Linked DNA regions of Homo sapiens. The protein of the gene in region 1 binds, or shares a complex with, the protein of each later gene. Each region holds a gene or a part of one and is shown in the gene's direction. Other genes may lie near its edges.

Region 1 (11,136 bases):
TTCTTGTATAATGTCCCCAGATCTGAACTGATTCAAATTAAACATTTTTGGTAAGAAAACTACAGAGGTGATGTGGCATCTTCCCATAGCATCATATAAGGAGGCACAGAAGATCTTCCAGAATCATCACTGGTGACACTAAGATTGATCACATGGTTTAGGTGATCTTCTCCAGATCTCTTCAACACAAACCTTTTCATTTTGTAATTAAGGAATAATCTCGCTGGGTGAGGTGGCTCATGTCTGTAATCCCAGCTCTTTGAGAAGGTGAGGTGGGAGGATGACTTGAGGCCAGGAGTTAGAGACCAGCCTGGGCAACACAGCAAGACCCTGTCTCTATTAAAAAAAAAAAAATCATCATCGTCTGTGGGGCAACACTACAAAACTGTATGAATACCTTGTTTCTCAACAACCTTTCACCCAAAGGTTTTAGCCTTCATTAACAGTCCTTAACTGTAACTGAATCAATTATCATACTGGTGGTTGCAAAATGGTGATCTTCTAGTAAAACGGTGGAATGATACATGAATCAACATCTCATCCTTACACAGGGCTATGCTAATCTCCTCTGTATTGTTATTAAAATAAATGTAGGGATCTACTGATAGACCTGGATAAGGATTATCTGCATAATAGATGTCATTGGTTTATGTTTAAATATAGATGATAAAAAGTGATAAAAGTTACCTGCTTGATGCAATCACTACGTCCTTACTCATGGCGCATTTAGGAATAAATTATCACATGCCTCACACTGTGCTGGGTACCGAAGATACAAAGATAGAGACAAGGCTATTCCTGTCTTCAGACAGATATTTATATAACTTACAAAACTGCAATATGAATAATAGTTCAAAAGTAACAAAACAAAGTATGAAGAAATGGGGAACGGCTAATTCTGATTCAAAGTCAGAGCAGAGACAGGAGACATGGCCCAAATATTAATGTATCACAGAGAAGGCCTGAGTTAGGCCTTAAAGGAGAGGCAGGGGAATAATGGACCTGAGGTGAGAGAAAGATCAAACAATGTGTGCAAAAGCATAGTACTAGAAAAAAATACACGGGGGGAAATGTCACAACCCATTATGTCTAAGGCATGTGAGTGGAGGGGAAAGTTTGGAGACAGAAACAAACAGAAGGATTTGGAGTGTCAAGTGAAAAAATTTCGTCCTCATTTTATAGGCAAGAGGAACCCAGAGAAAAACATTTTTAAAGAAGAGAATGGGATGACAACTTAAATGCTTCAGAGTGCCAACTAGTACTGTTGGAGGACTCATGGTGGAGTATAAGGGGGAAGCTAAAGAAAGTATTAAACCGGGGAAGTCAACTAGGAGGCTACCAGACTATTCCGTGCAAGAACTGAGGGGTGTGACTCAGGCCACAGGAAGAACTTTACCCCTGGCCCTTTGACTATCAACACACTGTCTCCTAATCTCATGTATCATTCTTCTTAAATCCATCCTATGGGTCACGTCAGTGTCCATCTTATAGTACATATAAATGTCCTAGGGCATTCTGCACAACATGCTCTAAATCACTGCCATTGTGAATGAGATATTTAGGAGAGTATAGGGAAATTCTCGACCTCCCATTTGCTAAGGAGAGAGTAGCAACTGGATTCAAACCGAAGGGCCTAGGACTTAGCTCCACTGTTAACTTTGGACATTTGAGGTCCATGGTTATTACATACTTGGAGATGGTGTAAGGACTGTTAAGCTTGAAAGGGAATTGAGAACAGAAACTTATTTTCTGTGATGGTCATCCATCGATCATGCATAAGAATCATTTCTAATAGTTTAAACTGTGACAATGTTAATAATAACTGTAAATCTTTTACAAAAAAAACTTCCCCATTCCGCTACTTATAATTATTTGTGTGTTTTTTTTGTTTTTTTTTTTGAGTCCCGCTCTGTCGCCCAGACTGGAGTGCAGTGGCACAATCTCTGCTCACTGGAACCTCCGCCTCCTGGGTTCAAGTGATTCTCCTGCCTCAGCCTCCCAAGTAGCTGGGACTACAGGCATGCACCATCATGCGTGGCTAATTTTTGTATTTTTAGTAGAGACAGGGTTTCACCTTGTTGGCCAGGCTGGTCTAGAACTCCAGACTTGAGGTGATCCGCCTGCCTCGGCCTCTCAAAGTTCTGGGATTAAAGGTGTGAGCCACTGTGCCCCGCCTACTTATAATCATTTGAATAAAAGGTTTATATGACTTATTTACAAAATAAAATACTGTTACTATTTTTTTTTTGAGACAGAGTCTCGCTCTGTCGCAGTGGCTTGATCTCGGCTCACTGCAAGCTCTGCCTCCCGGGTTCACGCCATTCTCCTGCCTCAGCCTCCCGAGTAGCTGGGACTACAGGCGCCCGCCACCATGCCCGGCTAATTTTTTGTATTTTTAGTAGAGACAGTGGGGTTTCACCATGTTGGCCAGGATGGTCTCGATCTCCTGACCTCGTGATCCGCCCACCTTGGCCTCCCAAAGTGCTGGGATTACAGGTGAGAGCCACCGCGCCCAGCCCTACTGTTACTATTTTATGTTAAAGATAAGATTAAATAATTTTTAAGGTTTTTTCCATTTCTAGTATCTTATGATTCTGGTACAATAAAAACAAGTTTATCTTGGTTTTTTAAGCTTCTGAATTAAGTTTTCAAACGTTAAAAATGACTGATGTTAGGGTGATGTTTCCATTTAAATGCTACAGAAAATACAGACATAATAAATTTAAACAAGTTTAAAAAACAAAATAAGCATTTTTAGCCACTTTCAGTCTTTTCTAGAAAAGTTCTAAGTGCTCTTATTCATGCCATGTCTTACCCTATATTGAAAAGAAACTGGACTTAATTCCCGGAAACTTTCATCTCCTTCATAAATAGAGCGTAATGCTTCTAGTTCCATCTGAAATAAAGAACTGAATGAGTTTTGTTTAGTGGTATAAATGAATTAGAAATAGAGGGTCTTTACTTTCTCATTCAAGCCCACTCAACTATGTAAAAGCTTGACTAACTTATATAACCTTAGATACTTACCACATAGGTGCATGCAGCAACACATGACAATATTACTACCAATGATACTTACTTTCAAACTCTGTGTCAGGGACTACTAAGCACTGTACAATGTATGATCGCGCTGACTTCTCAAATCAACCCTGTCAAGAGGCTCCTATTATTTTCTCCTTCCTAGGGAAGCAAGGAAGTCTCCCTGTAAAGCCACTCCAGAGCAAGCGCTCTTAGAACTTGGCTAAAGACGAACCTGGGTGCAAAGAGCATTAAACCTAAAGATAAGAACTATGAAAAACAATACTTTCCCATTATTTACATACATTTCTTTTATATGTAATCCTTCCCACAGTGATACAAAGCTCTAAAAAACACCTAAGGGCAAGAAAAAGAACTTAAGAAAAAGGCTGACAAGTATCTACCCAAGATGAGACAGGACTGTCAGAGAAAATGTAACTAGTAATCCTTGCTTGGACATAGTTCTTAGAACATTTTGGTATTACAACTGAGAAGTTCATCACTGTGATCACCGATGAATACCTGAGAAAAGAAGTAAAGCAAGACTGCACTTGGGTACACGTTTAAGTTTTTCAAAAAGATGCATGTCATGAATTCTACAAACTAAAGATGGTGAAAGTGGGCTTGATCTACAGTCAAAATTTTAGAATAGAAATTATTGGCTGGGCGCGGTGGCTCACATCTGTAATCCCAGCACTTTGGGAGGCCGAGGCGGGCGGATCACCTGAGGTCAGGAGTTCGAGGTCAGCCTGGCCAACACGGTGAAACCCCATCTCTACTAAAGACACAAAAATTAGCCAGGTGTGGTGATGGGCGCCTGTAGTCCCAGCTACTCAGGAGGCTGAGGCAAGAGAATCGCTTGAACCCAGGAGGCGGAGGTTGCAGTGAGCCGAGATCGGGCCACTGCAATCCAGCCTGGGCTACAGAGCGAGGCTCCGTCTCAAAAATAGCAACAACAACAGCAAAAAGACATTGTTGAAGAAACAGTGTGTGAGGAACTGGGACATTAAGGAGTAGACCCTAAGACCTAGTAAGTATATGAAAAACAAGATATACCCTTCTTAGATAGGGAAACTTGATTGGCACAATGAAGAAAGGCATAAAACACCGACTATATAGATTTCAGCCAGGCTCCACAGGTTTCTCTTGCTACCTTTACAGAAAAAACAAAAAAAAACAAAATACAGAAATTCAAGCCGGATTCAAGAATAACTAAGATTAGATTGGAACAAAAACCTTACTCAAGATATAGTACTACTCCTTCTGTCCCTAATCCTTTCCCATATTTTAATTTATGACTTGGACAGGTACAAAAATAGGAGGCAAGTTTATTAAATTTGTGGATGACAATTTGTTGGGACAGTGAATAATGCTGATGGCTGAATAAGAATCCAAAAAGTCTTTGAAAAGCAAGCTAATGATGAAATTTAGCAGGGTAAGTAGAACTTGTATCAATACTCAGATACCTAAATGTAGAAGTTGAAGATGAAAGACAAATTGCTTTGTATAAAGCACTTAAAAGATTTCAGTTGACAGTAAATTTAACTAGACAAAACAGCAAGATGCCACAATTTTGAAACAGGACATTTAAAAAATTAAAATCTGTCCACAAACACGTGATTCCAGGATAGTGAAGAGATTAACAAAGAATGGATATATGAAGACAAGCTAAAAGGAACCACTTCCTCAGAGAAGGTCTGAGAAACTGGGCAGGAAACTATCTTCAAAGATCAGAACATCGGTCATCTGAAAGAAGAATGAAATTTTCTTGTTAAACTGGAGATTCCTGGGCCCACCACAGAAATTCTGATTCAGTAGGTCTGGGGTGGAGTGCACGCATCTGTTTTCTAGCAACCATCTAAATGGTTCTAAGGTAGGGGACTATGGTCCAACTCTGAGAAACATTACACTGTATGTTCTTTGCTTTGCAGGGAGAAGAAGCTATTAACGCATTCACTTAGAAATTCACCCGGCAAGAATATTTTAGAAGAGATTCAGATATCAACTAGCTAGCTTGTTGGACTTTGGGTCCTTTAAAGGTTAACTTCCAATCCAGAGATTCTATTACATTTATCATGTAAAAGTAGTAAGTTTCAAGCATTATACTTTAAATTAACAGTGAACTTATCTACCACCCAATAAGACCTGGTTTCTAGTCCCGATTCTACCACGTACTTACTGTGCAGCCCTGCGGCTATCATCGACCCACCTATCAAAGTTAGAAGGTTCCCCTACAGATGGCCCGTAGCACCCACCCCCCAACTCTAATATTATATGATTCAATGTCAAAATGGCATCTCACAAGGAAATATTTGAGCATAAACCATAAATTCAGGTGGTACATGAATGCTCAAAACAGACAGATGGGTAAAAGATTTCCCCAAACAATATGGACAGAAACTCAGATGCACCACCAGTGTCATTTTCTTCCATGAGAAATGTAACTAACTCAATTAGCCCTCTACTAGCCAAGAGATTTAAAGATGACCAGACTAAAATTTAAAGGTGATCAGCCTAACTCAGTAAACAGGCACTGAACACATGGGATTCAAGGAGAGCCAAGAGCACTGGATCGTGCACCAAGGACGCTCATCCCTGTTATTAAGTAACCAGGGGAGACTCCCGGATTTGCAAAAATGAAAAATGAGGGGGGAAGAGTGGCAGAGGCGGACTCCTGGCCATTCACGCGCGCTTGGGTGGGACGCCGGTGAACTCGGGGCACCCCGGCCGGCTCCGAGGGCACAGGGCACGTGCCGGGCAGGCTGTCCGGGCACCAGGTCTCACGGGGGCCCGGGGCTGCGCGCCGCGCCCGCGCTGGGAGAGGGCCCTGAGCCGGGGGGCTCACCTCCTGGTCCTCGTTGGCACTCATCGCGCCGGTCGCGGGGCGCCTCCTGAGCGGACGGCGTTCGCAACAACGAAGAGAAAGCGAAGGCAGCGGCCCAGAGGCCGGGCGTCCCCCTTTCGCGCCTCGGCTGTGGGGGCGGCACAGTCTTGGCACTGGCAGACGCCAACTGCGCGCGCCCCGAGCCTCGGCAGCGCCCAGCCGCCGGCAGTGGGCTGTGGGCTACGAGCCGGAGCCGCGGCTGGTGGGGCCTGGGAAGTGCAGCGTCTCCCTGACGCTTGGAGGAGCGGCGTAAAGTTCCGGGACAGCGATTGGTGTAGAGCGCGGTCACTCAGGCCCAGAAAGTGCTTCCTGTGCCGGGGGAGGTGGGTACAGGGAAGTCTCGCCTGTTGGAACTGGCTGTGGGGCTGCGGCGGTGGGGACGGGCCACGGCGTTCTGTGACATCCCCCCGCCTCCCCTCGTCTTCTCCCGGCTGGCGGCGACCGGCCTCAGCTGCAGCGGGCCCGGGGCGTGGGGCCTGGGTGAGTCCGGGCCCGGAGACCCGCGGGGCCAGGCGGGACCGCCGAGGAAGAGAGCTAGCTCTTAACAATGCTGGTTTGGGGGCCTGCGTTTTGCAATCCCATCGACGGGTGCAATCCTGGCACTTCTCTTTTAGACCCGAGGAAAGACGCACCCGTTTCTAGGGCCTCCCAGGTTTAAGACGGGGGAATAAGAGGAGGAAGATATCTGCCTTTAGGGACTGCAAGGTTATTTCTCTACCTTTCCTCACTGGAGCTACCAGAACAGATACTGGGACCATGGGGACGGTGTTTCTCCTACGTTGGATTGTTGCTTCTCATCTTTAACATCGAAACATCATTTCGTCCCCACACTGTCGTTCCTCTTTTGTTCGTTTTGTAGTTGAACATCTCTGAATCCCATTCTTAGCAGCCTTGTGTCCTAACACCCTGAACTTCCAGTTAGTTAAAAGAAAAAAAAAGTAACCACATTAGGTTTTGGGGTTTTTTTAGTTGCCAATTTGATTGGGTCACCTTTCTTATCTTTCACGCTAGTTTCCAGTTTACTTCCCTTGCATTACTTGATCTCCCATCCATTATTCACCTTCTATAGCTGCGCCTCCTTTCGTGTATAGTTTCGTTGGTTGCTCCATTGGATATCTGAAAATTTCTCCTTCCAGCCTGTCATTGAAATCCATTCGATCTGCGCCTGTGCGTTATCGGGGTTCTCATTCAAATTCCTTTGCTGCAGAATAAGCACGACCATTTCAGGTGACATAGGAGAATGTGGCAAGACTTTCTGATACAATTTTCGTGCAGCAATTTTGGGACACATTTCCCATAATTTAGATCTCTGCTGTCCAGTTCTGTAGCCAGTAGCTACATCAGGCATTTGAAATAGGCTAGTCTGAATTGAGATGTGCTGTGAGTGTGAAATACACACCAGATTTTGAAGACTCAGTACAAAAAAAGGTAAAATATGTCATTAATAACTTTTATATTATTGTCAGTATGATAATATTTTGGACATACTGTACTGCGTTAAATTGAATATTAAAATGAATTCCATCCACGTTTTACTTTTTAATATGACTGCTAGAAATTTTTAATTTATTTATGTGACTTGTATTTCTATTGGATGACAGTCATTTTTAGTTCCTCTTATTTCAACTCCATATTTAAAGACCACAGCTATGTCTTTTGGGCCTCTGGAGTTATTACAGGAAATGGCCTCTAGTCTAGACTCGTTCATATTAAGCAAAGGGGCCCGTATTGTATTTTGGTCACTTGTTTTTTGTTGTTGTTGTTGAGACGGAGTCTTGCTCTGTTGCCCAGGCTGGAGTGCAGTGGTGCGATCTCGGCTCACTGAAATCTCCGCCTCCCGGGTTCAAGCCATTCTCCTGCCTCAGCCTCCCGAGTAGCTGGGACTATAGGCACGCATCACCATGCCCGGCTAATTTTTGTATTTTTAGTAGAGACGGGGTTTCACCCTATTGGCCAGGCTGGTTTTGAACCGTTGACCTCGTGAATCGCCCGCCTTGGCCTCCCAAAGTGCTGGGATTACAGGCGTGAGCCGCTGTACCCAGCCTGGTCACCCCTTTTTAATTTTCATTCCTACATTACCCAGAACTAGACTGTTTCTTTCTCTGAACATGCAATCCTTTGCCCTCATAACTTAATCCTGTCCTAAAAATATTTAAACAATTCTAAAACAATCTGTTGTAGACATTTCTGGCAAGCTTTGCAAATCATTTATTGAATACCTGTTGTTCTTTCAGTATGTAAACATGAGAAGACTAATAGTCTTTCCTAAATTAACCTTTCAGTTGAAAATATTCCATGTTTTGGGGATTAGGTATTAGCCTAAGTGTGCCTCACTTTTCACAAAGATTGTGTTAGACTTCTCCATAATATACTGGTATACTGGTGTAGATTACCTTTTTTTTTTTTTTTTTTTTTTTTTGAGACGGAGTCTCCTCGCTCTGTCGCCCAGGCTGGAGTGCAGTGGCGCGATCTCCGCTCACTGCAAGCTCCGCCTCCCGGGTTCACGCCATTCTCCTGCCTCAGCCTCCCGAGTAGCTGGGACTACAGGCGCCCACCACCATACTCGGCTAATTTTTTGTGTTTTTAGTAGAGACGGGGTTTCACCATGTTAGCCAGGATGGTCTCGATCTCCTGACCTTGTGATCCGCCCGCCTCGGCCTCCCAAAGTGCTGGGATTACAGGCGTGAGCCACCGCGCCCGGCCAGATTACCTTTTAAAAGAGCCTCATGACACATTCTTTTTCAAATAAGATTATATTTAAAATGTAGTGATAATTTTGTTTGGAATAACTTTTTTTTTTTTTTTTTTTTTTGTGGCACAATCTTGCTCTGTCACCCAGGCTGGAGTGCAGTGGCACAATCATAGTTCACTGTAACTTTAAACACCTAGACTCAAGTGATCCTCCCATCTCAGCCTCCCAAGTGGCTGGGACTACAAGTGAGCACCACCATGCCCGGCTATTTTCTTTTTTATTTCTTTTAGAGACAGGATCTCACTATGTTTCCCAGGCCAGTCTTGAACTCCTGGCCTCAACAATCCTCTGGCCTTGTCCTCCAAAAGTGCTGGGATTATAGGCATGAGCCACTTGTGCCTTACCTGAATTCTCTGTAATATGCTGGTATAGATTATCTTTTAAAAGAACCTCATTTGGGAGGCCAAGGCTGGCAATCGCCTGAGGTCACGAGATCAAGACCATCCTGGCCAACATGGTGAAACCCTGTCCACTAAAATACAAAAAATTAGCTGGGTGTGGTGGTGCATGCCTGTAGTCCCAGCTACTAGGGAGGCTGAGGCAGGGGAATCACTTGAACCCGGGAGGTGGAGGTTGTAGTGAGCTGATATTGGGCCAGTGCACTCCAGCCTGGTGACAGAGTGATACTCCGTCTCAAAAAAAAAAAAAAAAAAGAACCTCATGTTGTTACATCCTTTTGCAAGTAAGATTATATTAAAAATATAATGACAGTCTTGTTCGGGATAAACATAGTTTTATATACTTATAAAGTCAGGGCATACGTTAGATTTATTATGGACTGATTCTTAGCTAAAGGACGCAGTGGAAACATCCTCCGAGAGGTTTCCATTCATTGTTAGTTTTTCCCTTACAGATTTTTCTTTAAAGAGTAAATTTTATATTGTGGGAAATGAGACAACATAGCTACTATTTAGATAATTACATAAATTAAAGGCTATTTTAATAATATCCTAGGTATTCAGAAATTCAATATTAGCAATTACAGAGAAATTAGGGGAAGTTTATTATATGTAAGTCAACTGTTTTTCTTTTATATTTTTCTTTCAATATATTTTTCTTTTATAGTTGAAATAGATCATGTAGATCTATTTTAATTTTATCACCTTCTTGCTTTCTTGGTCTACTAATTTCAAAGTTCTGTGTGCATTTTGAGACATTACTGAAAATGCCGATTTGTCTTAAAGTTGACTTCATTTTTAACATGAAAGATTTTTTCTTAAATGTCATATAGTTATTACATTTTAATAGATCTAATTCAGGAATTAAAGTTTTCCCTTTTTCTCTCTTCTGTTTGTTTGACAGTTTGCAGATACTCAAAGCCTTTTGCCTTTTTGTAATGATTATTTTATTTATTTTATTTTTTTTGAGACAGAGTCTCACTCTGTCACCCAGATTGGAGTGGAGTGCCGTGATCTTGGCTCACTGGAGCCTCCGCCTCCTGGGTTCAAGTGATTCTCCTGCCTCAGCCTCCAAGTAGTTGGGGTTACAGGTGTGTGCCACCATGTCCAGCTAATTTTTTGTTTTTTGTTTTTGAGACAGAGTCTCCCTCTGTCATCCAGGCTAGAGTGCAGTGGCGCCATCTTGGCTCACTGCAACCTCCACCTCCCGGGTTCACGCCATTCTCCTGCCTCAGCCTCCTGAGTAGCTGGGACTACAGGCGCCCACCACCACGCCCGGCTAATTTTTTGGATATTTAGTAGAGACAGGGTTTCACCGTGTTAGCCAGGATGGTCTCGATCTCCTGACCTCGTGATCTGCCCACCTAGGCCTCCCAAAGTGCTGGGATTACAGGCGTGAGTCACCACGACCAACCAATTTTTTGTATTTTTAGTAGAGACAAGGTTTCACTGTGTTGGCTAGGCTGGTCTTTAACTCCTGGCCTCCAGTGATCCACCTGCTTCGGCCTCCCAAAGTGTTGGGATTGTATGCGTGAGCCACCATGCCTGGCCTTGTAATGATTATTTTTTTGTAATGATTTTTAAATAGAGATTCATATATTGGAAATGAATATGAGTTGTTTTTTTTTTTTTTTTTTTGAGACAGAGTTTTGCTCTTGTTGCCCAGGCTGGAGAAATGAATATGAGTTTTTAAAAATTAATTATGAATGTATTAACATTTGTATTTCAGGTTTTTTGTGACATCGTAAACATGAGCCCCACACAGTGGGACTTCCCTGTGGAATTATGTTGCCGGCCTATGGCCTTTGTTACTCTAACGGGCCTGGATGTAGTTTATAATGCAGTCCATCGAGCTGTCTGGGACGCCTTCTGTGCAAATCGGAGAGCTGATCGAGTACCAATTTCTTTCAAGGTGCTCCCAGGTGACCATGAGTATCCCAAATGTAGACCCAAGGTAATGGCATTGTGATGGCATGTGTTCTTTCCTTCTCTCTCTCTATGTGTGTGTGTGTGTCTTTTTTGTTCTGTTGTGTGTGTGGAGTTTATCAAGACAGTGGTCACAGTGGTGCATAAAGAAAGCCTTA
Region 2 (10,460 bases), on another chromosome or scaffold:
GCATCCCTCAGGTTGTACGATCTGAAGACATGCAGGTTCCTGTACATCAGCCATAGCTCAACAGAGACCTTCAAATAGAAAAAGAAGAGACTGACTTCTGGCTGCCAGCCTGAGCCGTGGAGTGTGCTGGCTACAGTCAGGGAAAGAGTGGGGAGAGCGTCCTCCAGCCCCTGCCACCCTGTGAGGCCTCATCATGCTGATGTGACACCGAAGTGCAAGCAAAAAGAAAATGTAGGTAAGTGGGATTTCACCAAAACTAAAAACTGTTGTGCTTTAAAGGACACCATAAAGAAAAAGTAAAAAGACAACCTATGGCATGGGAGACATTGCTTGCAAATCCCGTATCTGATAAGAGACTTACATCCAGAATATATGAAGAACTCTTACAGCTGCTAAATTAAAAACGATTCATGGCACTAGCATGCAGCAGGGGAGAGACTGGACTCAACTCTGACTTCACGGAGGACAGGTGGGAACTGACAACCAGGGACCAGGGTCAGGGTCAGCGTCCCTGGTTGGAAAATCACCCAGAGGAAGCTTCAAGAAGGGGTTTCTGGCCAAGCAGACTTGATAGGATCGTTGCTGACAGCCGGCCAGGGTGGTAGGATCTCCAGGTGCTAAGACACCGAGGGCGGGGACTTTTCTTAAACTGACTTAGCAGGATTCTTGCTCACACTGGATTCTACAAGGACAGAGAAGGAAGGCAAGGTCAAGCTTGTCTGGTAGAGGAGGCTTCTGCACGGATGCAGCCTAATTTATGCATTGACAGCCTGCCTGGTTCCCAGCAGGCCCTCGGGTTCTGCAGAGAGAGCAGGTGAGGGGGGGTCAGGGGAAAGGAGAGCACCCCTGGGGCCGGCTCTGCTGTGCTCACGCCGGGACGGGAAGAGGAGCTGGTGAAGGAGAACTCAAGAAAAACATGGAAGAGAAGCTAGGGTACTCTGAAATAGATCGCATCTTTCTTTTATTCGTTTATGTACATTAGCCTGGGGGGATTTGCCCAGTTGGAATGGAACAGTTTTTCTGATAAGCTTTAAAATACAAGAATGTTTTATAACATAAAAATTTAGACTAAAGTTTTCCGTGTTGGTTTTTGGGTAGGGTTTTTCTGGTGGGTTTTTTTGTCTGTTTTTGAGACGAGGCCTCGCTCTGTCACCCACACTGGAGTGCAGAGGCGCAAATGCAGCTCACTGCAGCCTTGACCTCCTGGGCTCAAGCAATCCTCCCGCCTCAGCCTCCCGAGTAGCTGGGAACAGGAATGCACCACCATGCCCAGCTAAGTTTTTTGTAGAGAGGGGGTCTTGCCATGTTGCCCAGGCTGGTCTCAAACTCCTGGCCTCAAGCAATCCTCCTGCCTCTGCCTCCCAAAGTGCTGGGATTACAGGCATGAGCCACTGGGCCCAGCTGAAATGAGTTTTCTGTATCAATTGCAGACCTATGCTTCTGTGACTAAAGTTGATCAGTGGTAAATATGAAAAGAACTGGGTTTTCTAGCTGACTACAGATTTAATATCATCTAGCAACCTATGTGGCTGTTAACATAGCTGTTCTGTCTTTGGATGGTTTAAAATCATCTGACTCCCACACCACAGAGAAGAATCATTCTTGCCTTCCTCTCCAGTCAACAGCTCACAGCCATGGACTGCAGGACACTCCGCCTTGAGAACACTTTAAAATGGCCATTGCCCATCTGTAATGGCTTCCGTGCCACCAAGGTGATGAGGAATCCCAAAACTGTGACAGAGAAGCAGGTGAAGGAGCTGAGAACTGGAGCTCTCCCCCACCCCTCAGTGCCTGTATTAGTTGGGGCTCTCTAGAGGGACAGGACTCATAGAATAGATGAATCTATGAAGGGGAGTTTATTAGGAGAATTGACTCTCGATCACAAGGTGAGGTCCCACAATAGCTGAGGAGCAAGGAAGCCAGTCCAAGTCCCAGAACCTCGGCAAGTCTGCTCTTTCCAACTTCTGCCTGCTTTATTCTGGCTGTGATGGCAGCTGAAGAGATGGTGCCTACCCAGATTAAGGGCGGGTCGGCCTCCCCCAGCCCACTGACTCAAGTGTTCATCTCCTTTGGCAACACCCTCACAGACACACCCAGGATCAATACTTTGCATCCTTCAATTAAATTGACACTCAGTATTAACCTTGACAGCGCCCAAGGAGGGGAGGGCCAGACCCAGCGCACAGTTCCAGTTTCTGCCACGGAAACACTGACCATGTGTTGCTCTTAAGGTCGGAGCTCCAGGGCGGCGTTTCCCCGGGTTTCTGCGTTTATAAGTGATGTTAGTATCTGGTTTGCGTGTGCACAGGTGACATCTCAAAAGGATATGGTGGCTGTTTTCTGTCTTCATATAAGTTAGAAGCTTGCTTTCTCTCTCTCTGGAAAACTTGAGTAATGTGGAATGATCTATTCCCTGAAGGTTTGAGTATTCACCTAAGAATTGCCTTTGCTGAGCACATGAGGTGTGCTGTGTGCTTTTCCTAATTTATTATTATGAATCTGCCTTAGTGTTGTGTGCCTGAGGATTTTTCTGTGTTTCTGGGAACCATTTTGGTAACTGAGAGTTTTCTAGAAAGCCACCTGTTTGGTCCCTGTTTTCTCGTGGATTCGCACAGAGTAAAAGACAGTGCTCTTACCATTATTTCCATTTCCTTGTTCTGCCTGTAGCTATTTCTACTTTTACATTTCTGTTTATGCTTCCTTTTTCTGGATTAGTTTATACACTGTTTTTTGTCTTTTTCTTTGTGAGACAGGATCTTGCTCTGTCTGCCAGGCTGGAGTGCAGTGGCACAGGTATGATTCACTGCAGAACTCCTGGGCTCAAGAGATTCACCTGCCTTAGCCTCTCATGTAGCTGGGGACCACAGTGCTTACGGCCACACCTGGTGCTTACAGCCACACCTGGCTAATTTTCTTTTCTTTTTTAATGGAGACAAGGTCTCACTTTGTTGCCCGGTCTGGTCTTGAACTCCTGAAATTCAGCGATCCTCCCACCTCGGCCTCCCAAAGGGCTGAGATTACAGGTGTGAGCCACCATGCCCAGCCACTGTATTTCCTTTTTAATAGTGTCTTTTACTGATTTGTTTTCTACATATTCTGGAATACTTTTAATTGCATTTTTATGTTTAATTTTTTCAGTTGCTCCTAACTTTTAGAAATCGGTAGGATTTTGTATCCTAATTACATTTTAATAATTCTGAAAATGTCAAGTTACTTTCTAATCATCAGGAAAGTCAGTGGGTAGCAAAGAATATCCCAAGATTTCTCTGTTATCTTCCTCTGAGACATTGAGTAAAGTCCCATGCCAGCCTCAGGAGGCCTTGCAGTGCGGAGGATCAGCACACGGTCTGGGCGTTGGACAGCCTGGGTGTTGACCACAGTGTTCTGTGTTAGCTGTGTGACCTCAGAAAATTGTCTCATCTTTCCAAGCCCGACGACTTCATCTAGAAAGCGAAGCTAGCGACAGCATCTGCATCCCAGGCTGTCGCGAGGGTCAGGCGAGCTGTGCTTGTAAGCGCTTGCCACGGCCGCCGGCACACGTTAATCTTGATCGGTCTTGATGATGGGCTGTAATCATCTTCAGTTCAGTGTCTCACACGGTCCTGTTAGACAGGAGATGCAGGCGTTCGAGCTGAGGGCCGCGTCACGGAGCCCATGCTGCCTTCGGTTTCTTTTTAGTCCGCAAGTGGGAAATCGATAGTAGTGGACTTCAAACGGCTTCGGACTGTGCAGACGACGGGCAGCGATGGACAGATGCCATTCAGTGTGTGGTGTGTGTGCACGCCTGTGTTTTCTCTTGTTTCATTCTGTTTTTTCTTCCTCCTCGTATGGTATTTCTTTTGTGGGATAACAGCAACAGTTGTGAAGGGCCTGAGATGTTATCCTGTTTCCAAGCTGTGGAGTTAGCTGCCACTTTCATGGATGCTGGCAAAAAATGTAAGATTCCTACGTTAGAGAGGAAGGCTATTTATTACACAGCAACAGCAGTACAGCCAGAGTGGCATTCTTCCCACCAGCCACGGGGCCCTGATTCCTCAGGGTCTTCACCGAGGGCCTCATGAGGCCTGCAGTGGGCTGTGTGGCTGGAGAGGAATCCTGAACTTAGAACACCCAAATCCTTGCTACTGGGAGGCGAGCCTGCCTGCCCTTTGCCCCAGAGGGATGCAGTTTAGCTTACAAGGCTGTCCTCTAAACAGGCATCCTTGTGTAAATGCTTTGAACAAAGCCTTGTCACTGTCTGTGCTTGGAAGACATGCAGAAACATGACACCCATGGAGAACCATCTCCCCACCAGTCATCTGAGAAGTTAGCAGGCTTGTTTTAATGCTGGACAGATGCTTGGCGTGGACAGTCTAAGAGTTAACTAGGCTGCTCAGTATGATAGTGATGGGTGCCCCAGCCCTCCTCATGGAGGTGAGCCGCGCGCATTCAGCTTGTTTCTCATCGAGACAGAGGACAGCATTCTGTTAAGTTTCTGCTGCTGCCATGATAACAGAGCTCGCTGTCACATTCTGGCTCCCGCAGGCTGTGCCCCGGACACAAAGCAACTCTGTCTTTACCCTCGTGAGCGCGGCTTGGGCCATAATAGGACTTTTCTTTCATTTGTATCTATTTCTTATTGTAAGCCTTAGATCATTTATTCCCTTCCTTACACTTCTAGAGGTGAAAGAAAACCCAAGTCTGCCTTTGTAAAACCAAGCTGTGGCCTCAGGAGTCAGGGCTGGGGCACTCAGCCTTCCACCCCCCAGGCCTCCTCTGCCACAGGCCTGCTGCATCCGGCTGCATTTCAGTCGGGCAGCCGGTGGGTTTCCTGACATGCGTGATAAGAGTGGGTTTGAGTTTGGTTTGGCTTGTTTTTTACAGTTGAATTCTATATTATTTGGTCAAAATATTACTTTGCAATTTGCAAATGTGGTGGCACCTACCATTTTACTAGCCACAAGTAACTCATAAGTTGACGTAGGACCTGCTCATATTATACCAATATTTTAAGTATTTTATGTTTCATCTTATTAGTTATTCATTTTATTTTATCTAATGCTCTGCCAGAATTCATTCCAAAAGGTAAAAATTACTAAACTATAAGACTCTTAAATAAGGCGTGTATATTAGCAACTTAGTTTCTGACATATAGAACATTAACATTCCACTGTATCTTAAATGTCTTTTGCCTTTTTATTAAAAAATGATTAAATGGTTACTGAAGTTTTCCTCTGCCTGACATATAAATGTCTTCATATTCTAACATGATATTAGGGAACTAAATATATGAGTATAGACTTAATATTTCTTTTGTCAACTAAACTGACTAAATTTTGTCAAAGCAGATTGGAGACATAAAAACAGCTGAAAAGTATTTTCAAGACGTTGAGAAAGTAACACAGAAATTAGATGGACTACAGGGTAAAATCATGGTTTTGATGAACAGGTAAATATTTTAAAACTAAATATATGTTTTCTCAAATTTCCCAGAGGCGTTCAAGCCCCACTTACTGAGTTGGAAAGCTCCCTAGAGAAGGCGCTTCTCCCTGTATCTCCTCTTGCCCTGTGTCTCTCAGAGCGGAGACCCAAGGAGTATACAGGTGTTTTCTTGAATCGCAGTGATGTTCTTTTAGTCACAGAAGCTGATTTTTAAGGAGCTATTCCCCCTTGTTCTTCAGAGAAGCGCTTGTATTGCCCCCGTTTTCAGCGTATGTGTGTGTAAAGGTCACCATTGCTGGCGTAGCGGCCGTTCTGGATCCTGTGCTCTGGTGTTCTGTGTCTGGATCCCGTGCTCTGGTGTTCTGTGTCTGGATCCCGTGCTCTGGTGTTCTGTGGTAGAACGCACAGCGTCGTGCGAGTGCACGTTCGTGAGGAGGAAACACGCCTTGGACAAAGCCTGCAGCCAGGATCAGAAAGCGTAAATAAAGCAGGTGTCCGCTTTTAGCAGGAAGTCATTTAGGTGAAGTTACTCTATCTCAATTAACAAAAACTAGAGTGGCTTGGCCGGGTGCAGTGGCTCATGCCTGTAATCTCAGCACTTTGGGAAGCTGAGGCACGTAGATCACTTGAGGTCAGGAGTTTGAGGCCAGCCTGGCCAACATGGTGAAACCCCATCTCTACTAAAAATACAAAAAATTAGCCAGGCGTGGTGGCAGTCGCCTGTAATCCCAGCTACTTGGGAGGCTGAGGCAGGAGAGTTGCTTGAATCCAGGAGGCGGAGGTTGCGGTGAGCCGAGATCGTGCCACTGCACTACAGCCTGGGCAACGAGAGCAAAACTCCATCTAAAAAATAAAAATAAATAAAAACTAGAGTGGCTTTAATGTGCGAGCCTGAATGCAAAACGCAGCTCACCGCCTCTACCTGGAGATCAGGAACCCCGGGCCACACAGGGCCATACGCTGGGTCTCTGTGGGATCCAAAGCCCCTGTGGGTTGTGTTGGGGGACAGCAGCTCCTGGGCTTTCCCCGCTAACTGCCACCGTTGCTTGTGTTACAGCGCGTTCCTTCACCTCGGGCAGAATAACTTTGCAGAAGCCCACAGGTTCTTCACAGAGATCTTAAGGATGGATCCAAGAAACGCAGTGGTAAGATCCCCAAGCTGCAGGATCCTCCATCCTCTGCCTTTCACAGACGCTAGAAACATACACCCACACACGTCTCAGCAGGGGCCTGCGCTCTCTCTCTCCAGTCCACCAGCTCCAGGCAGTGGCTGTGGCCCTTAGGGGAAGTGACCCAACAGGGCCACCTAGGCTCTGCCCAGCAGCTCTGCACCACCCCCAGGCCCCTAACACGGCCCAGCACGCAGCCTGGAATGGGCGGGCGTCTGTCCTGGTTGTGTGGGCCAACCCTGGGCGTGTGCTCCTCCCTAGGCCAACAACAACGCTGCCGTGTGTCTGCTCTACCTGGGCAAGCTCAAGGACTCCCTGCGGCAGCTGGAGGCCATGGTCCAGCAGGACCCCAGGCACTACCTGCACGAGAGCGTGCTCTTCAACCTGACCACCATGTACGAGCTGGAGTCCTCACGGAGCATGCAGAAGAAACAGGCCCTGCTGGAGGCTGTCGCCGGCAAGGAGGGGGACAGCTTCAACACACAGTGCCTCAAGCTGGCCTAGCTGCCTCCAACACACTACGTCAGAAGGACCCGGGTCTTTGAAACTGTGTCTTGAAGCTAATGTATTAATGTGACATGGAGGAACTCAATAAAACTCCTGCTTCACTGGTGTCTGCTGCGTGTCTTCTTGGTCCCAAGCCACGGCCCAGCCCAGGACTTCCCCGCAGTTGGTCGGCGTTCAGCCACGCAGTCCCTGCAGCTGGGTCACTGTTCATGAATGCAAGGGGCAGGCGTGCTGGGAGGACACAGCTCGTAGACAGGAAATCTGGAGTCAGCCTCGGGGCCTCTGTTCTGGAGGCCAATCCTGCTTTGCTCGTTCCTTCTGGACATCCTCAGAGAAAAGCTGGGAGGTGTGGAGACCCTCTCGCCGTGCACCTGCACGTACAGGGAGATTTACAACAGGGAAGACACCCCCCACAGATCGCCGCTCATGCTCCTCTTGCCCTCCCCACACACCCAAAACTAAGTGCGTTGGTCTTACCCATCCGAGTCTCCTCCAGCCTGATGCCAGCCAAACGACCCCTGCCAGCCTGGCGGTGGAGGAGAGGCCATCACTGTTTCTCCCATAGTTTATACGTCCACGTGGAGAGTGAGCTGAGTGGAACAGGAAGCACGACGCATAATGAAGCACAGGAAGAGCGCGTAAAACGCAGGCAGGCAGGGGCTGGGGGTGGTTTTGAAGCCAGACACGTGTTTTCATGTGTTCTCTCATGCCTGAAAGGCCTTTTGCCCTTACGTTTACACAGTTATTCCTGCTTTTGAAGAACTTAAAGTACCTGAAAATGTCTTCACTTTACGAAAGAACTCTGCCAAGGGTTCTCTAAATATCTAGCTTTGTGGATAGTTTTAAATATAATTCATTTTACAGACTGTGATATAAACATTTGCACAAAGCGAAGCCATATTTCTGTTAATTTTTGTAATAGAGTAGAAACATACAAACACTGCATCTACCAGACAGTCTCAGCCCATTTGCTGACATCTAGATTAATTATGCATTAAAAGAAAAGAAAAAAGAGGTGAGACAGCCAAAAGGACTGTTGGACACCAAGGAGGTTTCAAGATCTTTCTCTTCAAAAAGAGAACTGAAACTATTGTTAAGCCCAGAAAGATGAAGATGTAATTAGAAGCCCTCCACCTTGAGGGTCTTCCTTCAAATGTGACTTCAGGGATGAAGTGTAAGGCTCTTCCTCTGCTCCAACCTGGCACCTTACTGCAGGCATCTTACAGGATTTGCCAGAGGATTATGGAGCCCGTCCTTTACAGGCTCGGGGCTCAGAGCTGTCCCCGGCCAGTTGTGCGGGAAAGCAGACAGCAGTGCCCAGGCTCCAGCTAGACATGAGCCCGGCAAATCAGAAACAGAGATCAAAGTTCCCTAGTAAGCTGGTAAGCCTAAATCCACCCTCCCTCCCAAGCCCCACCCCCATGCTGCTGGCATGAGGCCAGGCCAGGTGACAGTATCATTGCCTCGTTTCTTGCCTGGATTATTTCTTCCTGGTTTTTTTGTTTTTTTTTTTTTTTTTTTTTTTGAGACAGGATCTTACTCTGTCATCCATCCAGGCTGAAGTGCAGTGGTGCAAACATGGTTCACTCCAGCCTCAACCTCCTGGGATCAAACGATTCCCCACTCTCAGCCTCCTGAGTAGCTAGGACCACAAGTGTGCTCCACCACGCCCAGATTTTTTTTATTTTTATAAAGATGGGATCTCACTATGTTGCCCAGGCCAGTCCCTAACTCCTGGCCTCAAGTGATCCTCCCACCTCGGCCTCCCAAAGTGCTGGGGTTACAGGTGTGAGCCATGGTGTCCAGCTAATTTTTTTTTCCTACTGCCTGTATGATTGCAGAATTTTTTGTTTTGTTTTGCTAGAAGAGGAAAACGGTGCTGTGAGTGTCTATAACGTCTGGGACAATTGTAGCTTATCTAGTTTACACTTAGCTTTTCTTTATGTTAAAAATAAATTATACATCCCAGAAATCTTTTCTAGAGCCAATTGAAGTGAATGGCTAACGATCAGAAAGCTTATTTTCTAACTGGAAAATGGGAACTCGCTGAGTTGATGATGGGCTCACAACTGTGGAAATGCCCACCCTGGAATGCACAGTGGAGAATGAAGAAGCCAGTAACCCTGATGGCATCGTTACCGAATGGCCAGGGTGTGCCAGGCGGCAAGGGTGGATTTGCTCCCTGAATGATCCATCCAGCTGAATCTTGAGTCATTCCGCGTTTGCCACGAGGGGCAGTGTTAGATCAGTGGTCCTCAAAGTGGGGTCCCCGAAGCAGCAGCACCAGGTTCTCCTGGGAACTTGACGGAAATGCACATCCTCAGCCACATCCTCTGATCACAGAGGAGTCAACTGCTGGGGCCTGGGCTGGGCCGGCCCGACAGTGTCGTCTGCACCGCCCTCCAGGAGCTTCTGGTGCTCCTGCAGGTGTGAGAACGCATGTCAGACGCCGGAGGCCACAGACAGAATTCCAGTTACACAGCAGGCGTTGGAGCCCATGGGCATCGCCATCCTGCCTTACACTGCTGGCCTCTTCTATGCCCCCTCGAGGATTGTGCCCCCACTTGTTCTCTCTGCCTGGACCCCTCCTGGCATGCACCTTCCTAGTCCCTATTCAGTGTCACCCCCTGAAGCCTGCCCTCAACCCCAGGACAGTGCAGCCCCGTCCACACTCCCCTTACCTCTTGTCCTGGACCCACACAGGCTCCGCAGCACCTGCTCCTGGCACGGCCCCACAGTTGCAGTACTTGGGCTGGAGCTGCCGCCATGAGGTCCTCCTTCAAACACCCAGTTCCAGCGTTCCCCGGGAAGCTTCCCATGCCATCTTGTCACGTCTTGCACCCAGCACCGAGGGTGAGGCCCGGCAAAGCAGAGCTGCAGGGGCTCAGCTGTGTACACCACAGTTCTTGAGACGCCCACCTGTGTGTCCTCCCCGATCCTGCTCCACAGGTCCAGGCCCAGGCCCAGAGGTAGCCCCTGCGTTCCCGTGGCTTCAGGCACACGTGTGCAGACATGACGCCGAGAACACCGGCTTTGCCACCAAGGACAGAAGACAGTCTGCCCCACCCGGGGTCACCTGCAGGTCCTGCTCTGACCAGGGTCCAGGCCCTGATTCCGGGGATGCGACAGCACCCAGAATGTCCTGCCTTGTGTGGCACGTGGGACCGGGGACTCGGGCCCCAGGGCTCCCAACCCTGGCTGTGGAGAGTGGGTGGCTCCGCTGCTGGTCGGGGGCACTGTGTGGGCAGACAGCGTGCCAGTGGCCACAGGATGTCCTGACAGCAGAGGCGCTAAACACTCCAGGAGCGCCTCAGCCCCAAGCTCTGGTTCCACCCCTTGCGGGTGAGGGAGGCCCAATGACAG
Region 3 (11,088 bases), on another chromosome or scaffold:
AATAAGAAAAGGTGCATGGAAGAGGATGGGAAGGACAGCCTTGCACCAGCCTCCTCCGGCCCCAGGCAGCACAGCATGGAGGGAGATGACCTCCACTAGGGAAAGGAGAGCAACGTGAGTGCCAGGCCTGCCTCGGACACCAGCACCAGGCTGCCCTGGTAAAAACCAGCACCGGGCAGGCCCTGTGGCCCCAGTTACCAGGCTGGGCCATGGACTGAGCAATGTTTTTTAATGAAAAAAAAAAAAAGTCTGTTAATAGTTAAAAAGAAAGAAAAGAAAAATTTCAAATAATACTTAAGTTTGGAAAATACTTAGTGATTTTTGTTTTGACAATATAGTGGTCCAAAAACTCTCAGCACAAGTTCCTTAAAATTCTGATTAAGAGATAAAAATCCCCCCATCCCCATCCCCAACATCTTTCAAAATGCAAAGCTCATTGTTAAGAAAGGAAAAGGAAATCCTTTTCCCAAAAGCAGGAATTCTGAAAGTCAGTAGGCCTTGGAAGCCAGAGAATGCCCTGCCTAGCTGTGGTAACAGTTTTCAGTGCTCACATAGGAGGGATAGAAAATAAACCTTAGACCTGCCCAGACTTGGGAGTTGGATGGCAGACCCATGTGTAAAGCCAAGATCCCCTAAACGACACGTTTAGCAAAAGAATGAAATAGAAAATACCTCAGTCCTTAAAGTAAGAAAATAAGGAAACTTGATCTTGTTGGAAGGTGTATTAGTCAGGGTTCTCTAGAGGGACAGAACTGATAGGATATATACATATATAAAGGGGAGTTTATTAAGTATTAACTCACATGATTACAAGGTTCCACAATAGGCCGTCTGCAAGCTGAGGAGCAAGGAGAGCCAGTCCGAGTCTCAAAAATGAAGAACTTGGAGTCCAATGTTCTAGTTGGGGAAGCATCTAGCATGGGAGAAAGATGTAGGCTGGGAGGCTAGGCCAGCCTCGTCTTTTCATATTTTCTGCCTGCTTATATTCTTAGCTGCGCTGGCAGCAGATGAAGTGTGGGTCTGCCTCTCCCAGCCCACCGAGTCAAATGTTAATCTCCTTTGGCAGCACCCTCCCAGACACACCCAGGATCAATACTTTGCATCCTTCAGTCCCATCAAGTTGACGCTTAGTATTAAGCATTACAGAAGGAAACAAAACCAATCCAAAGAGGGTTTAGTTTAAAGTTGTCCTGGTATAAGAGTGACCACAAACTCCTGGCAGAAAAACATAAGTCCTTCTGGAGTGAGAAGCTACGTTCTGAATGAATCAGTGAACAGAAAACATGAAAAAGGTTCACGGAAGCTCTGGATTGAGATGTTAGACCCCAAATACACTGCCTTTGCCTCTCTCCCAAGGTCTCATTTAAGTATCCCAAAGTATTTTTTTTTTTTGAGACAGTCTTGCTCTGTCACTCATGCTGGAGTGCAGTGGCGTGATCGTGGCTCACTGCAACCTCTGCCCCCCGGGTTCAAGCGATTCACCTGCCTCAGCTTCCCAAGTAGCTGGGATTACAGGTGTGCACCACCGTGTCCATCTAATCTGACAACACATCATTAGTGTTTTGTAGTGTAGTGCGGAAGGCATTAGTCTATTTCGGACAGGCAGGAGAGGAGTTTAGGAAAGGAGTGATGGGGGGTGGGGGACGTTTTAGCTGTGTATGGTCTTGTTTAATTGGCTTTTAATTTCAGGCTGCATGAGTTGTCATTGGAGGGACTAGATTTTATGGAGAACAGACTTAAAGAAACTCAGAACTTGGCTGGGTGCAGTGGCTCATGCCTGTAATCCCAGCACTTTGGGAGGCTGAGGCGGATCACCTGAGGTCAGGAGTTTGAGACCAGCTTGGCCAACATGACGAAACCCTGTCTCTACTAAAAATACAAAAAGTAGCCGGGTGTGGCGTCGGGCACCTGTAATCACAGCTCCTGAGGAGGCTGAGGCGGGAGAATTGTTTGAACCTGGGAGGCAGAGGTTGCAGTAAGCCGAGATTACGCCACTGCGCTCCAGCCTGGGCCACAAGGGTGAAATTCTGTCTCAAAAAAAGAGAAGAAAAAAAAAAGAAACTGAGAACTCTGGTATGGAAAGATGAATGTGGAGAAAAGCTGTAGTCAGAGTTCAAATCATCTTTAAAGTACACATGAACTCGCTTGCTCACTAAACCCAAAGATGGTAAAATAGGCAGTATTTCTTGAAGCCAAAGGAGTGGGTTTTTCAGGTTATCCAAGAATGAATCAAAGGCTGGAACTGAGGTGATCAGGGGTCAAGCGCGGACTTTGCTTGGCCATCTCTTTTGGATGGTGCACTCAACAAGGGCACTGACTGTTTACAAAGTGTCCTTCCTCTAGCATGTGGTGGGTATACCTGGTAGTCTAGGAACCTTCCAGGTATCTGTCCAAGGCATAGGGCACAGCATCCCTGTTTCAGCCATCTCTCCATCCATCTTCTTCCCAACACTGTGATTTTTTTTTTTTTTTTTTTGAGATGGAGCCTCGCTCTTGTTGTGCTGAAGTGCAGTGGCGCGATCTCGGTTCACTGCTAACTTCCACCTCCCAGGTTCAAGTGATTCTCCTGCCTCAGCCTCCTGAGTAGCTGGGACTATAGGCACCCACCATCACGCCCGGCTAATTTTTATATTTTTAGTTGAGATGGGGTTTCACTATGTTGGCCAGGCTGGTCTCGAACTCCTGACCTCAGGTAATCTGCCTGCCTTAGCCTCCCAAAGTGCTGAGATTATCGGCATGAGCCACGTTGCCTGGCCTCAACACTGTGATTCTTTTTTTTTTTTTTTTTTTTTTTTTAGATGGAGTCTTGCTCTGTGCCCAGGCTAGAGTGCAGTGGCGCAATCCCGGCTCACTGCAAGTTCCGTCTCCCAAGTTCACGCCATTCTCCTGCCTCAGCCTCCCAAGTAGCTGGGACTACAGGTGCCTGCCACCACGCCTGGCTAATTTTTTGTATTTTTAGTAGAGACGGGGTTTCACTGTGTTGGCCAGGATGATCCTGATCTCCTGACCTTGTGATCTGCCCACCTCATCCTCCCAAAGTGCTAGGATTACAGGCGTGAGCCACCGCGCCCGGCCTCCAACACTGTGATTCTTTATGGACCTATCTCCTCTACTACTTCATGAAGTTTTGAGGGACCAGGTCTTATTGAAGTTTTTGTTTTGTTTTGCTTTGTTTTCATTCTTACTTTTGAATGATTAAAACTGAAAATGGATCCAATTACTTTAGACAGATGCTTTATAAAGGAAAATCCTTGGTGCATGCCTCATACCCCTACTCCGGGATATGAGAAAGTAGGTTATGTTTTTAACAAACTTTTTTGATAGACATATATGGAAAGTTTGTATAATTTTGAAGATGTATTTTCTCTCCATGTAATTATGGCTGGAAATAGCCGGAGAGAGGAGCAGAGTGTGTTTTCAAACCTGGGAATGTGTGGGGCCTGCTGTTTCCCATCCGGCATTCTCCCACGGTCATCATTTAGTTGAGTGCGGCCACCAGGCTGCCCCTACACATCTGTCACTGACTTGTTCTTCTGATCACTGCAAGTGCCCACGTTTGAGAAGGCTGATGAGGGTTAAGGCATTTTCTAGAGCATCAGTGGCTGGTTAACTTGGGGTTAGAACTTGTGGTGTCAAAGGCATTAACTAACAGTGATATTTCTGTTTCTTGAACACTCACTGAGAGTTTTAGGCTTATGCTCAGTGTTTGCATTATTTCATTGAGTCTTTTTGACAATCGTAATTAGATTTGATGATCCCTGTTTCTTAGGGATATGCAGATGTGGCCCTGGAACTCAGGACTTTACAGCTCCAGGCTGTATTCCTCCCTCTCCATCCTGCCAGAGACAAGTCCTGTGTCTGGAGTTTCCCTCTGATCTTGTCACTTTATTTCTTATTAACAGAATAAAGCAGGTCTAAACTTACTTTCTACTTGGAAATGGAATGGTGAGTTAATATTTGGATCCCTCAGAGTCTGCCTTGTGAATAAAGCTCCTTGTCTTGAGTAGTCTTGGAGCCACTTTCGTTGGAACCTCACATAAACATCTGGGCCCTGAACTTGGACTTCGTGACTGTGCAGCCTATTGAAAGATTAGAACAAAGATGTGCTGATTAATATGCCCTAAAAGAGCAGCAGGTTGGAAATGAGTTTGGGGATTTCATCTCATTTCAAGATTTCCTGAGGATCTTGGCCTAGCTTTGCCAGGGACCATTTTGTACTCCCCGGCTCCTTGTGCCATAGGTGCCTGTGTCGACCAAACATGGCTTTGTCCTGAGGCTCTCTGGGCTCATGGCTTCTCAGTCAATTGTCTGCCTAGTGCCCAAAAGCAGTTGCGCTCGAGCTTTTCCCATTAAGGAACCGTTTTAGGGCTTTAAAGTGATGTCAATTCCATTTGCAATGTAGTATTTATCATTTGACTTCTTATTACACTGAAATGATAAGAGGAATGAAGTAATATTATTACTGATCATAGTATTATTTACAACCTTTCATCTTAGATAGGTTCCATGAAAGAATCAATGGGAGTTCTAACGCATTGGTGGCCAAGGCATGTGACCTTCCCCGGCTGTCACCTTTATTTTAGATGGTGACCTCTTTACAGGCACTGGCTAAGATCAGTATTCGTCTTCTCTGCCCCCTTCTCTGCCCCAACATCTTTGATCATGTCTGGCACATAGTGGGTGCAGCTGAAGGTCTGGGCATTTCCAGATTTGTGATGAAGGCGTTAAGTACCCCCACCTCTTCTTTTTCTTTTTTTCTTTTCTTTTCTTTTTTTTTTTGACATGGAGTTTCACTCTTGTTGCCCAGGCTGGAGTGTAATGGCACAATCTTGGCTCACTGCAACCTCCGCCTCCTGGGTTCAAGCAATTCTTCTGCTTCAGCCTCTCAAGTAGCTGGGATTACAGGTATGCACCACCACGCCTGGCTAATTTTGTATTTTTTAGTAGAGACGGGGTTTCTCCATGTTGGTCAGGCTGGTCTCGAACTCCCAACCTCAGGTGATCTGCCTGCCTCGGCCTCCCAAAGTGCTGGGATTACAGGTGTGCGCCACTGCGCCCGGCCAACCCCTGCCTCCTCTTTACAGTCCTCTTCCACCCCGTCCCTGGCTGCTGTCCTCCAGCACTGGGGCTTCTGTTCGCTGCTGTACTGCACACTCCTGGAAAGGGACAGGCCATGTCCTACTCAAATTTGAATATTCACGGACCATAGACCTAGACAACAACTTCTAGATGAAAACATAGGATATCTTTGTGACCTCGGGCAAAGATTTTTCTCAGATGAGGACATAGAAGGCACTAACCATAGAAGAAAAAGCTGATAGATTGAGCTACATCACAGAGAAATGCTTTTGCTTATGAACACTCCCTTAGGGAAATAAATCGGCAACAGACCGGGAGGAAATATTTGCAAAACACATATAACTAAGGACTTGCATTCAGAATATATACAGAACTCGTACGACTCAGTAATAAAACAAACGATCTAATTTTAAAAACTGTCAGAAGATTTGAACAAGCGCTTCACAAAGGAAGATATACCAGTGGCCAGTGATCATATGAAAAAGGTTCAACATCATTAGTTTTCAGGGAAATGGAAGTTAAAGCCACCACAACGTCTAAAATAAAAAAGACTGATATCCTCATATGCTGGTGAGCAGGTGATATCCTCATATGCTGGTGAGCAGGTGATATCCTCATATGCTGGTGAGCAGGTGGAGCAACAGGGATTCTCACACATCGTCGGCGTCGGCATGACCTTTCACTGTAGGAAAAGTGGGGCTGGCAGAGATCCGATATGTAGGTAAATTGTGTGGGAGACACAGAGAAAGGACATTATGGAGTCCAGCATGGTTAGGAGAATTTAGGGAAAGAAGCAGCAGCTTCCCGCTGAAGGGCATGAGGACCAGCTTCTTGGAGAGGGTGGCATTGGAACCGAGTGTCCAAAGGGAGAGCCAGATGTGGCTGTGGAGGCATTGCAGGAGCAGAGAGCCTGTGTGCCCCGGCGGCGTCACCTAGTACAGCCTGCCTCATACGCTTCCACCCATGATTCTATGTCAAAGAGTATTTCATTGGACTTAGAGCAGCTATTTTGTTTATTTTTTCATTGATTTATTGTCATCCTCCCCACTGATTCTAAGCCAGGGGACTAGCCTGTCATTAGCATGGAGGCCCCCAGGGGTAGGAGTCTTAGCTTGTTTTGCTCACTGCTGTATCCTCTGCCACAAGAGTGGCTGGCACCAGAGTAGGGGTTCAGTAAATATGTGTTGACAGAATGAGAAAACAAATGAGTTAAAGTTGTTCAGTCTGGTGAGGTCATAGGTAGGCAGTGGGGCCTCGAATTTCCAGAGCAGGTTGGGGCTGAGGAGGGCCTGGCATGCCCGTGAAGGCATTTGGGCTCCATTTTACAGTCCTGAAGGGGTCTAGTGGTTTCAAGATGGGGATTGTCTTAGTCCGGTGAGGCTGCTGTCACAAAATGCCACAGACTGGGTGGCTGATAAACAATAGAAATGTATTGTGCACAGTTCTAGAGGCTAGAAGTCCATGATCCAGGTGCCAGCATGTTTGGTGTCTGGGGAGGGCCCACTTGCTTGTTCATAGACCGCCGTCTTTTCTCTGTGTTCTCACATGGTGCAACAGGTGAGCTAGCTCTTTAGGGTCTCTTCTTATAAGGGCACTAATTCCATTTGTGAGTGCTTCACCCCCTGACCCAATCACTTTTTAAAGTCCCCACCTCCTAATTCCATCACCTTGGGGGCTAGGCTTTCAACATGTGAATTTTGGGGAGGCACAAACATTCAAACCGTGGCTCGGGTGATGGGCTCTGAGCCATGTCTCAGGAACCTAAGTCTGGCAGGGGTGTGTGGACAGGTGAAGGAAGGTCGAGAGGTGGTAGGAAGACAATGCCGATTCCTCTTCCAGATGAGGGCTGACGAGGGCCCCATCGAGGCCATGGCAGTGAGCGCGGAGGAGAGGGGATGGAGGGAGGGTTTGGAGGCCCAAGTTGGAAGGGCGTTCAAGCTAAGGCTCTGTACTCACAGAAACATCAGGGAAACATTCATCGTCCAGGGCAGAGGAGGGAGAGAAGCGCTTCCTTAACAGTGCTCCTGGAGCAGCAGAGTGGGCTCTGCCTTCCTTCTTCTCTGAAGGCGCTGTGCAGTGGGCAGGGCCCAGGCCCAGAGTCAGGTCTTGTCCCTGATACTTCTTGGCTGTGTGATTTTGCACAGGTGATTAATGTGTCCCTGAGCTGTTAATGTCCTTATTTGCCAGCTCACAGGATGCTTGTATTGAGTAAATCAGGTACGTTAAGTCTGCTGCCATACAGTAGGTGCTGAAGAAACAGAAGTTGTTGGCTGGGCGTGGTGGCTCACACCTGTAATCCCAGCACTTTGGGAGACTGAGGCAGGCAGATCACCTGAGGTCAGGAGTTCGAGACCAGCCTGGTTAACATGGTGAAATCCCGTCTCTACTGAAAGTACAAAAATTAGCCAGCATGGGGGTGGGTGCTTGTAATCTCAGCTACACTGGAGGATGAGGCAGGAGAATCTCTTGAACCCGGGAGGTGGAGGTTGCAGTGAGCCAAGATCGTACCACTGCACTCCAGCCTGAGTGACAGAGTGAGACTCCGTCTCAAAAAAAAAAGAAAAGAAACAGAAGTTATGATTGCTACACTACAGGGTTGTTGGGAGGATTCAGTTGGGTCTTGGATGAAAGAAAACTTTTGTAAACCCTGAAGTCTTAAGTCTGATATCAGTGGTATTGTTAATAATTCATTACCCAGTTACATGATTCTGTGTCTTCTTGTGTTTTAAGAATTTTTGTGTTTGATGAGAGACCTTGATAAAATCCTGTTGTGTAGATGAACTCTTGTTCCTTTTCTTTTCTTTTGTGAAGGAACTTAAAGTAGAGGTCTCAGATTTGTAGCAGGTACCTTTGTAGCAGAGAATCTGGGCTTTATCAGCAGGAAGATGGGCTGCACCTGCAGCTGTGGCTGGGGAAGGTCTGAAGCCACCTGGGGCCTGCGCCATGCGCTGCTCACCAGGCTTTCCCTCTCCTTGATTCTCCTCGATTCTCCTCAGGTCTTTGTTTTATGAAGAGACATTTTTAATGTGTGCTTCTTTTTTCACTTATACGTTTCTTTCAAAAGCTTTTTACTTTCTCTCTGTGCTTCAGCTTTCTGAGGAAGAGAAAATTCAGCGCTACAGCATCCTCTCCGAGCTCTATGAGCTGATCGGCTTCCATCGCAAGTCTGCGTTCTTCAAGCGCGTGGCCGCCATGCAGTGCGTGGCCCCAAGCATCGCGGAGCCTGGGTGGAGGGCCTGCTACAAACTCCTCCTGGAAACGCTGCCCGGCTACAGTCTGTCGCTGGATCCCAAAGATTTCAGCAGAGGTACTGGAGTCCCCTTGCTGGCGCTAAGGTGTTGCTTTCTGTCTGATGGTCACATGCTGTTTCAGCCCCTGCCCTGAGTGGCAGACATCGTGGTTGGTGCTGGTGGCTCCAGAATGACTAGATCCCTGCCCTGGAGTTGGGTGCCTGCTGTAATCCGATTATAGGAAAAAGTACTGGTGCTTTGCCTTGGGGCTCGGATTCTTGAATCTTTATCAGTGGGAGTCAGAAATTGCCTTTGAGTTCATTGGCATGGTGTGTCATCATCAATCAAACAGTGGAAGTACCTAATGAATTTTACTCATGAGATTTAGTTAGTTTAGCACAAATCAATGAACCCAGAATAAATATCCTTGGGTATATGTGTATACCTGAGCTATGCATTCAGCAGTAAATTCTTATTCTGAAATATTAATGCAGGGTAATATGTATTAAAAATAAAGCTATCAATCTAATAACAAATATGTACAAGGATAATGCCCAGTATTAGACAAAGTCTGATTAGAAGGAGAAAAAACATTTTTGGGGGCCAGGCACGGTGGCTCACTCCTGTAATCCCCAGCACTTTGGGAGACCAGGGTGGGCGGATCACTTGAGGTCAGGAGTTCATGACCAGCCTGGCCAACATGGTGAAACACTGTCTCTACCAAAAAACAAAAATTAGCTGGGCATGGTGGCGTGCGCTTGTAGTCCCAGCTACTCAGGAGGCTGAGGCAAGAGAATTACTTGAACCTGGGAGGTGGAGGTTGCAGTGAGCTGGGATCGTGCTACTGCACTCCAGCCTGGGCGACAGAGAAAGACCTTATCTAAAAAAAACCCAAAAAAACAAAAAAAAAAACATTTTTGAGGGGTTACTTTTAGATAGGAAACATACACTTTTTCTTTAGTTCAAGCCTAGAGCTAGTGAAGGTATAGGCTTCTAGACAGGAAAGAACTGTGATGTCATCTAGGTTAATTTCCCACCAGGGCAAAAATGGGTTCTTCGGCATCCTTTTTATTTTTATTTTTTTTCCTGAGACAGAGTTTCACTCTTGTTGCCCAGGCTGGAGTGCAATGGCATGATCTTGGCTCACTGCAGCCTCCAACTCCTGGGTTCAAGTGATTCTCCTGCCTCAGCCTCCTGAGAAGCTGGGATTACAGGCACGTGCTACCACGCCCAGCTAATTTTTGTATTTTTAGTAGAGATGGGGTTTCACCATGTTGGCCAGGCTGGTCTCAAACTCCTGACCTCAGGTGATCCGCCCACTTTGGCCTCCCAAAGTGCTGGGATTACAGGCATGAGCCACCATGCCCGGCCTCTTCAGTATCTTTTTTATGTGGTCATGTCCATCCATTTCACTGGCCTCTGCTGACTGAAGGTGCTCATGGCTTTATGATGAATCCAAAAGTTCTGCTTTTGGATAATTCTGATAGTTAGGGCTCTCCCCAACGTTGAATTAAACATTATGTTTCTCCTTACTTTCACCTGCTAGAATATCTGAAGACATCTACTGGACTTTTTTGTACATTGATTCAACAGGTAGTTCGTTATACTCCTGCCCCCATGCCATGCAGTGTGTTGGGTGAGTGATGCGATGGCAAAGGAGACAGTTTCTGCCCTCTACAGTGGAAATAAACAGGTGCCTCTCACATGTGACAGCTTCCCGGTGTTTGCACAGAGCTCTCAGGTCCTTCCAGAGCCTGCTTCTAACTTACGTGTCTGTGGTTGCTGTGACAGTCACTCCTAAGTCACACTCCCCAGACTTCTTACTGTTCAACCATCTTCCCAGGCAACACTTACATTTGATAGAACCTCAAATCCGATTCTCAGGATGCATTCTGGTTAGCTTCGAGCAGGGGTCAGCAAATGTTCTCTGTAAAGGGCCAGATAGTAAATATTTTAGGCTTTATGAGCCACACGGTCTGTGCGGAAATGACTGGACCCTGCTGTTGTGGTGTGAAAGCAGCCATGGACGGCACGCACACCATGGAACTGTGTTTACATTAGTACATGGTGGCCAGATTTGGCATGGCAGCTATACTTTGCGAAATCCCTGGCTGAGAACACTGTGATATTTGAAATCATTTATTTATTTTTATTTTTTAGAGATGAGGTCTCGCTGTGTTGCCCAGGCTGGCCTCAAACTCTTGGGCTGAAGCGATCCTCCTGCCTCATTTAAAAGGAGGGCACTGGGTTTGGAAGAGAAAACGCAGACTGAGTGAGTAATATAGCAGGAGGAGAGTCAGGCGGGCAGTGAAGGGGAGTGAAGGGAGGCTGGGATGGAGTGTACGCAGCACTTTAGCCTCTTATTTCTCTTCAGGGAAGAGAACTAGACCTGGGGGGTGCTTTTGCAGTCTGGGGAGGGCACTTCTGCTCTGGACTGCTGTGGTCTGGCCAGAAGCTATGCCAGGAAGAGCTAAGGCCCTGCGTGAAGCAGATGTGTTCAGGGTTGAAAATCCCCCAAGTCCCATCAAGTTCCCCATATAAATCCCCAGTTTTTATGGGTTTTTGTCTTTAGAGCCTAAGATATCCTGCCTCTCTGGAGCCACAGGGGCAGGCGGAGCGCTGATGACCACTCTGGGCAAGTGATAAAAGCCTGTCATGCTGTCCACTCAGGTGAGATGGCTGAGATCTGGCAGGGAGTTTGGCACTTTGTGTGTTCACCCTCAACATGTGAATGGTGTCCAGCACAAAGCAAGAACCAAGACGTCCCTGCGGAATAGAA

The links.
Region 2: TRAPPC11 (region 1) and TRAPPC12 share a complex: the UniProt entries of both Homo sapiens proteins name them as parts of the multisubunit TRAPP (transport protein particle) complex.
Region 3: TRAPPC11 (region 1) and TRAPPC9 share a complex: the UniProt entries of both Homo sapiens proteins name them as parts of the multisubunit TRAPP (transport protein particle) complex.

Annotation. Positions count from the first base shown.
Region 1 is NC_000004.12:183,653,066-183,664,201, forward strand, and holds the start of TRAPPC11 (trafficking protein particle complex subunit 11), read left to right. Parts: upstream 1-6,227; 5' UTR 6,228-6,382; intron 6,383-6,436; exon of another isoform or gene 6,437-7,330; intron 7,331-10,781; 5' UTR 10,782-10,802; coding exon 10,803-11,006; intron 11,007-11,136. Other genes in the region: RWDD4 (RWD domain-containing protein 4), read right to left, coding at 2,816-2,896, 5,864-5,887. UniProt on the Homo sapiens protein: Involved in endoplasmic reticulum to Golgi apparatus trafficking at a very early stage.
Region 2 is NC_000002.12:3,472,368-3,482,827, forward strand, and holds the end of TRAPPC12 (trafficking protein particle complex subunit 12), read left to right. Parts: intron 1-5,327; coding exon 5,328-5,428; intron 5,429-6,225; exon of another isoform or gene 6,226-6,478; coding exon 6,479-6,566; exon of another isoform or gene 6,567-6,851; coding exon 6,852-7,094; 3' UTR 7,095-7,198; downstream 7,199-10,460. UniProt on the Homo sapiens protein: Component of the TRAPP complex, which is involved in endoplasmic reticulum to Golgi apparatus trafficking at a very early stage.
Region 3 is NC_000008.11:140,368,262-140,379,349, reverse strand, and holds part of TRAPPC9 (trafficking protein particle complex subunit 9), read left to right. Parts: intron 1-8,169; coding exon 8,170-8,386; intron 8,387-10,976; exon of another isoform or gene 10,977-11,088. UniProt on the Homo sapiens protein: Functions as an activator of NF-kappa-B through increased phosphorylation of the IKK complex. May function in neuronal cells differentiation. May play a role in vesicular transport from endoplasmic reticulum to Golgi.